Homo sapiens: one gene and its partner. The protein of the gene in region 2 purifies or fractionates together with the protein of the main gene of each other region. This does not show direct contact. Each region holds a gene or a part of one and is shown on either strand. Other genes may lie near its edges.

Region 1 (3,500 bases), on a different chromosome or scaffold from region 2:
GTTCAGCCTCTGCTCAGAGGCCTGGTTCATGTAGGCCAGCTGCCGATCCCATCAGGGAGAGACAACACTCACAGAGGGTGCAGGATGGGGACCAATCCCCTGGGGCTGGTGCCCCTGGCCTCGGGGATGGGGATGTGCCCTGGAAACTTGGTCGGAGCTGGAGGAGGGGTCCCTAAGCAAGCTGGGGCTGACACTTTCTGACAGGGACTTGCCTGTGTGGCTCCTCCTGTGGCGGAGGCAACCTTGGGTGGAAAGGGGAGGTCCCCTATCACACACAGGTGGTGGTGTGGCCAGGTGTATGTCTCATCAACTCCCGACCACCCAGCTGCATGCAGTCAGCTGTGCACATGCTTACATATGCATGCCAGCAATGTGCTTGCCCACATCCACAGACATGCGAATGAGGACAGAGGCCAGCCTCCCACTCGCTCTGCCCTGTGGGTGCTGCAGGTGGACCCCTCACTGAGGGCCCCCCCTATGCACAGCCTGTGAATAAAGAGCCCTGGCTCCACAACCCACAAACACTCCCCAGTCCCCTGCAGTGCTCAGACACAGAGGTGAGGTGGGCAGCGCAGGCACAGCAGGGGGCAGGGGAGTCAGATGTCCTGTGCACCCAGCTGGCAGCCCCACCAATGGGGACACAGAAGAATGTGGCAAGTGCATGAGCACCCATCATCCACAGGCCCCAGCCCTGTGCTGGGGGTGGTTCCTGAGGCCAGGAGGAAAGGAGCCGGCCAATGAGAACACCCCACAGGCCTGGGCTCTTCCTTGGCCAGCCCCTACCCACCGTGTCCCTGTAATAGAGATGATGTAGCCCAAAGAAAAACTAAGGGAGCAACGGGCCCTGCTGTCCTGGAGAGCAGGCTTGGCCAGGCTGTCCAGCGACAAGGCACCCCCGAGGCCTGCACCAGGAGAGTGTGAACACTGCTGGGGCTGGGCAAGGGCCATGACACCATCCTCGCTGCCTCTGCATTTGTGATCCAATGTGTTTTAAAACTTGCAAAGACAACTTGAAAAATGGGGACATGGATGGTTTCCCTATGACATAAGCAAGACTTAAAAGCTAGAATAACTAGTAAGGGACAGATCAGACCAGAGAGCAGGCGGGTAGGCCAGGCATGGCTCACGGGTGGCTGCAGCCAGACTGTGAGTTGCTGCAGCCAGCAGCTGATGCTGAGGTAGGCCCTATGGAAAAAGGTGAAATGGGATCCCCTGTTGGTCAGGACATAATAGGTTATGCTGTGGAAAACACAAGCCCCAAACTCAGTGGCTTCGCACATCAAAAATTTATTTCTTGCTCATATTACATGTGCATCGCGGTCGGCAGAGGGGCTCTGCTCATCACAGGCTATCAAGGATGACAGCAGACCCCTCCCTTCTGCCGCAGTTACACTTACAGGTGGACTCAAGGTTGAATGTCAAAGGCAGAAAGTTACAACCTGGGAATACAGGATAATGCCTTTGTACCCCCCAGGTAGGGAAAGATTTCTTAAGTGAGAAACAGCATCCCATACAGCACAACTGGGCACTGCCTACTCAACAGCCAAGGCTTGGCCATCCCCACTCCTCAGTATGGGCCCCAGAACCCAGGGCCTGGGGGACTCTGCACACAGGCATGTGGAGACCACAGAAGCCTGCCCAATATAGCGCTGCCAGGAACAGCAAAGACAAAACCAGAGAAGCCTATCGCGGGCACCGCTGTGGGCAGAACTATGTCCCTTCAATATTTTTATGTTCAAGTCCTAACCCCTAGTACTTACATTTGAAGACAGGGTCTTTAAAGAGGTAATTCAGGGTTAAATGAGGTCATGAGGGTGGGCCCTGATCCAATAGACTAGTGAGCTTATGAGAGATTAGGACACAGACACAGACAGGGACACGGCAAGAAGATGGCTATCTGCAGGCCAAGGAGCGAGGCCTCAGGAGAAACCAACCCTGCCCACACCTTGATCTCAGGCTTCTAGCTCCAGAATCATGAGGAAATGTCTGTTGTTTAAGTCCCCTAGCCTGCGGTCCTTTGTCAGGCAGCCCCAGCAGACAAACAGGTATGTTGCCCTGGGATGGATGCAGGCCCCTCCCATCCTCCCATCCTCAGCAGCACCAACCAGCCCCACGCTGGGTGGCTGCTTGTACTTCTCCATACTGAGCACCCCAGCCCATAGGATGATCAGCTGCTGCCGTCCTATGGAACTCAGGTGTGGCTCTGTGGCTTCCTTTGGCCACAGAAATGGAAGTGGGGTGACACACATTACTTGTGGCCTGCTGTGGCCTTTCCCCTGCCTCAGTGAGCATGGAGAAATATGTCCAGGTAGGCTGTCGTCAGCACAGGTCTGACAGGCCCCAGCCACGGTGGCCCACAGGTGCAAGCAAGAAATAAGCAGTGCCAACTGTAGCCGCTGCGCTGTTGGAGATCTTTGTTACTGCAGCACAATCTGGCTCATGCTGACTGATCCTGCAGGGTAACAGCTTTATTTGCCTTGCTCCTTTATTGCTGGATCTTTGGGCTTTTCCAGTTCTGCTGTTCAAAAAACAGTGACACCCATGAGGTGGGTGTTAGAGGGCCCAGACCCCAGCCAAGGCACTGCATGGGCATCATTCTCATTCAACCCTTCTAACCACCCCATGAGGAAAAACTCTGGTCACAGCTCAAAAAGGTCAGGTAAGGACCCTCAGCTCATGCGGGGAGGGGAGGAGGCAAGGCCAACCTCCAGTCCCTGCTCTAAACCCCCATGTAGTGGTACCGAACCATGACCACCCCTGGCAAGAGCCTTCATGCACCTAGCAAGTAGTCACAGCATGCATGTGCCTAGAATTGTTACGTGGTCAAATTATATTATTGTGTATTCCCACCAACAGTATGAGAAGGTCCACTTCTCCATACCTCCACAACTCTGGGCATCTAAAACTTTTAAAATCCTGGAATCATAGGCAAAAAAAAAAAAAAAAAAAAATTCACCCATATTTTCCTCTAGTACTTTCATAATTGTAACATTGAAATCTTTAATCTGGAATATGTACTGGCATAAAGAGTGAGGCACATACATGGCTTTACTATTTTCCAGAGGGCCAACTGCTTTTACTGAATAATCCATTTTACTCGTTAATTGGAAACACCTCTAGCCTGTACTAAATTTCCATATTTATTTGGCCCGTTTCAAAGTCCTCTATTCTCTGCTCATCTGTCCACATCTAAGTGCTTTAACTATTGTGGCTTTATAAAATATTCCAATATCCCATAGGACCTTATCCTTAGTACTTCCTATTTTAAAGTTTTCCTTGCAGACAGGTACTTTAAATACCATCTCACAGCACCCATCATGTCCTATCTTCAGGAAATAAAATCTCTGGGTATTTCCAAGGGAAGTGAAGGACTGACACCATGATTAGAAAGCAGAGCCAGCACCATGGCCCGTCCCTGAGCATGTCCAGCAAACCCTGCCAGGCTCTGCAGCTCCTGAGCACCCTGCCTTCGGGTCTGCCAGTGTGTGGGGGCCAGAAGA
Region 2 (3,500 bases):
CGGTTGCCTTCCTTTTTAAAGCTCCTATTTCGCTGTAGGTATACACCACATTTTGTTCATGCATTCATCCATTGATGGACACTTGGTTTGCTTCTACCTTTTGACTCTTGTGAATAATGCTGCCGCGAGCATGAGTGTACATATATATCTTTGAGACCCTGCTTTCAGTTTGTTTGGGTATATACCCAGGTATTGGGTCATATGGTCTTGCTCTGTCACCCAGGCTGGAGTGTAGTGGCGGGATCTCGGCTCACTGCAACCTCTGCTTCTCGGATTCAAGCGATTCTCCTTGTCTGAGCCTCCCGAGTAGCTGTGATTACAGGTGCCCGCCACCACACCTGGCTAATTTTTGTATTTTTAGTAGAAACGGGGTTTCACCATGTTGGCCAGGCTGGTCTCGAGTTCCTGACCTCAAGTGATCTGCCTGCCTCAGCCTCCCAGAGTGCTGGGATTACAGGCGTGAGCCACAGCGCCCGGCCTGTACCATTTTGCATTCCCACCAACAGTACCCAGGATTTTGCATGCTTTTTGCCCAGGGTCGATTTAATGTCAGTGCATCCCCGGCACTGCATCCTTGTCTCCTACTTTTCAGCCCTTGTCTGGGTTCCTTGATACCAGGGAGTGCCTAGGTCATTGTGCTCATTCGACAGATGGGAAGATGAGCTCTCCAGAGGGGATGGGACCTGTTCAAGACCCCAGGCCTGATTCTCACAGATCTTTCACTTCACGCTTTGCTTCCTGAGCAACTGATTCGGGCTCTGGCACTCCCCGGAGTGCCTTCATCCCGTGGCCCACGCAGTTCTTCCACTGCTCACCGGGGCTGTGGTTCCTGTCCCCACAGGTCCAACGAGCGCTCCTCCAAGCGGAGCCTTGGAGGGCACGGCCGGCACCATTACCTCCAACGAGTGGAGCTCTCCCACCTCCCCTGAGGGGAGCACCGCCTCTGGGGGCAGTCAGGCACTGGACAAGCCCATCGACAATGACGCAGAGGGCGTGTGGAGCCCGGATATTGAGCAGAGTTTCCAGGAGGCCCTCGCCATCTACCCGCCCTGTGGCAGGCGCAAAATCATCCTGTCGGACGAGGGCAAGATGTATGGTAAGGAGCCCGTCGGGTTCAGCCCTGTACCTGAGGCTGAGGCAAGGGGCCGACACCAGAACCTTGGGGTTCCTGCCGGGCCACAGAAGGGGATGACCACTTGGGGCTTTGTCGGGTGGACACTGCTTTCTTCCCTCCTGGGCTCCCAAGGGATGGGGGCATCTGAGGAGAAGCCTGTGAGGGGGTGTGGAGGGTGGGGCCCCTGGCGGTGAGCAGAGATGGGAGTGGGAATCTTGGAAAAGGCGAATCTGGGTGGGGTAGAACATCCCCCCAGAGCAGGTGGGGAGCACCCCACAAGCTGTACCCCAGCAGGTGCCTGACCAGCAGGCTGCCCACCTTGGCTGTGAAGGATGCTCACTCATCCCCTCTTTCCCTCACTCATTCATGCAACAAACAGATGCCGAGCCTTCTGTGTGCCTGGTGTGGGTTAGACGGGTCTAGTCCCAGCCTGTCATCTGGGGTGAGGGTAATGTGAGCTCACAGATACCTGCTCTGCAAGGCAGCCTGGAGAGTTCCTAGGAGAGGCAGAGTGCTGGAGACCACTCCCCTAGGAAAGGCCCCCCCCAACCCAGCAGAGGGTCACCAGAAACGGCTTGATCTTTGTGAGTGGCTGGGGTTGCAGAACACAGCTGAAACTGTTCAGCGATGCATGGGAAGGACCAAGCAGTTGGCATGGGGCCACGATGACTTTTGGATGGAAGAGGGGGCATCTGGAAAAATGAAGCAGGGGCTGGGCATGGTGGCTCACTCAAGCCTGTGATTCCAGCACTTTGGGAGGCCAAGGTGGGAGGATCACTTGAGGCCAGCAGTTTGAAACCAGCCTGGGCAACAAAGCGAGACACCATCTGGAGTAAAAATAAAAAAAATTACCCAGGTTTGGTGGTGCCAGCCTGCAGTCCCAGCTACTGGGGAGGCTGAGGCAGAAAGATCTCTTGAGGCCAAGAGGTCAAGGCTGCATTGAGCCATGAGTGCACTGTTGCACTCCTGCCTGGGTGCCAGAGTGAGGCCCTGTTTCAAAAAAAAAAAAAAAATGAAGCAAGAATAAAAACTGAATGGCTGTTGGAAGGCCCAGATAAGGCTTCTGTTCCTGTTGGAAAGTCCTCTAGGAATCCTAGCTCAAAACAGTGGTCTTGGGGCAGGAGTGAGAGCCCTGAGTGGGTCTCTAAATGGCTGAAGTCAGTGACAACGGGGCCCCTGCCTGGCTTCCAACAGGATGGCCCCAGACCAGCTGCCCACCCCCACGGGTTTCCATTCATTTCTCCCCCACACCCAACGCTGGTGCCACCCCCACCATTGTTGCTTGGCTCGGCTTCCCCAGGGTCGCCCTTACTTCTGGGTCGGCCCTCTAGACTCTCCCTGCTTTGACCACTTCTTGCTCTGATGGTTGCTTATTTTTTCCTTTTTCTTTTCTCTCTCTCTCTTTTTTTTTTTTTGAGATGGAGTTTCACTCTTGTTGCCCAGGCTAGAGTGCAATGGGCGCAATCTCAGCTCAACGCTACCTCTGCCTCCCGGGTTCAAGCGATTCTCCCACCTCAGCCTGCCGAGTAAGCTTGGATTACAGGCACGTGCCACCACTCCTGGCTAATTTTGTATTTTTAGTAGAGACAGGGTTTTTCCATGTTGGTCAGGCTGGTCTTGAACTCCAGACCTCAGGTGATCCGCCCACCTTGGCCTCCCAAAGTGATGGGATTACAGGTGTGAGCCACCGCACCCAGCTTTTCTTTTCTTTTCTTTTGTTTTTGAGACAGAGTCTTGCTCTGTCGCCCAGGCTGGAGTGCAGTGGAGCAATCTCGGCTCACTGCAGCCTCCGCCCCGTGGGTTAAAGTGATTCTTCTGCTTCACCCTCCCGAGTAGTTGGGTCTACAGGCGTGCGCCACCACGCTCGGCTGATTTTACAGGTGTGAGCCACCATGCCCGGCCTTGCATCTGTATTTCTAAATAAAATACTTGAATGTGTTTGTGGCAGTTAAGATAAAATTTGTCTTTAACAGATCCCAAATAACAGTGGCTTACATAAGGGAAATTTCCTTCTCTCTCCTATAAATGTCTGGAGGGTAGGTAGTCCAGGGAAGGTGTGGCAGCTCTGCTCCATGAAGCTCTCAGGGACCCAGGATGCTTCCGTCTTGTGGCTCATGAGCATGCCTTCCATTGTGAATGTTCCCTTAAGGCCCAAGCAGCTGCTTCAGCTCCAGGAGTTACATTGCAGCTAGCAGACAGGAGAATGGGATGAAGAAGAGTGACCTGGATACATTTAAGGAAGACACTGGGAAACTAACCCCTGAAATATTTACTGGCCAGAACTCCTGTGAAGTCCCTTCCACCTCTACTTGTGAAGTTCTGCTTCTTACTTTTAGCGCCTGGGGAAGCGTCATGGGGGAGACAGCTGTGTGTGGAGCACCTGGGG

Evidence for each region.
Region 1: the proteins of TEAD4 (region 2) and GNB1L purify together in Homo sapiens (affinity purification with mass spectrometry, with the first as the bait; one large-scale study listed by BioGRID). This does not show direct contact.

What each region holds. Positions count from the first base shown.
Region 1 is NC_000022.11:19,844,875-19,848,374, forward strand, and holds part of GNB1L (guanine nucleotide-binding protein subunit beta-like protein 1), read right to left. Parts: exon of another isoform or gene 1,272-3,500; intron 1-1,271. UniProt on the Homo sapiens protein: Acts as a critical regulator of DNA damage response (DDR) signaling via specifically regulating phosphatidylinositol 3-kinase-related protein kinase (PIKK) family proteins.
Region 2 is NC_000012.12:2,993,897-2,997,396, forward strand, and holds part of TEAD4 (transcriptional enhancer factor TEF-3), read left to right. Parts: intron 1-841; 5' UTR 842-870; coding exon 871-1,096; intron 1,097-3,500. UniProt on the Homo sapiens protein: Transcription factor which plays a key role in the Hippo signaling pathway, a pathway involved in organ size control and tumor suppression by restricting proliferation and promoting apoptosis.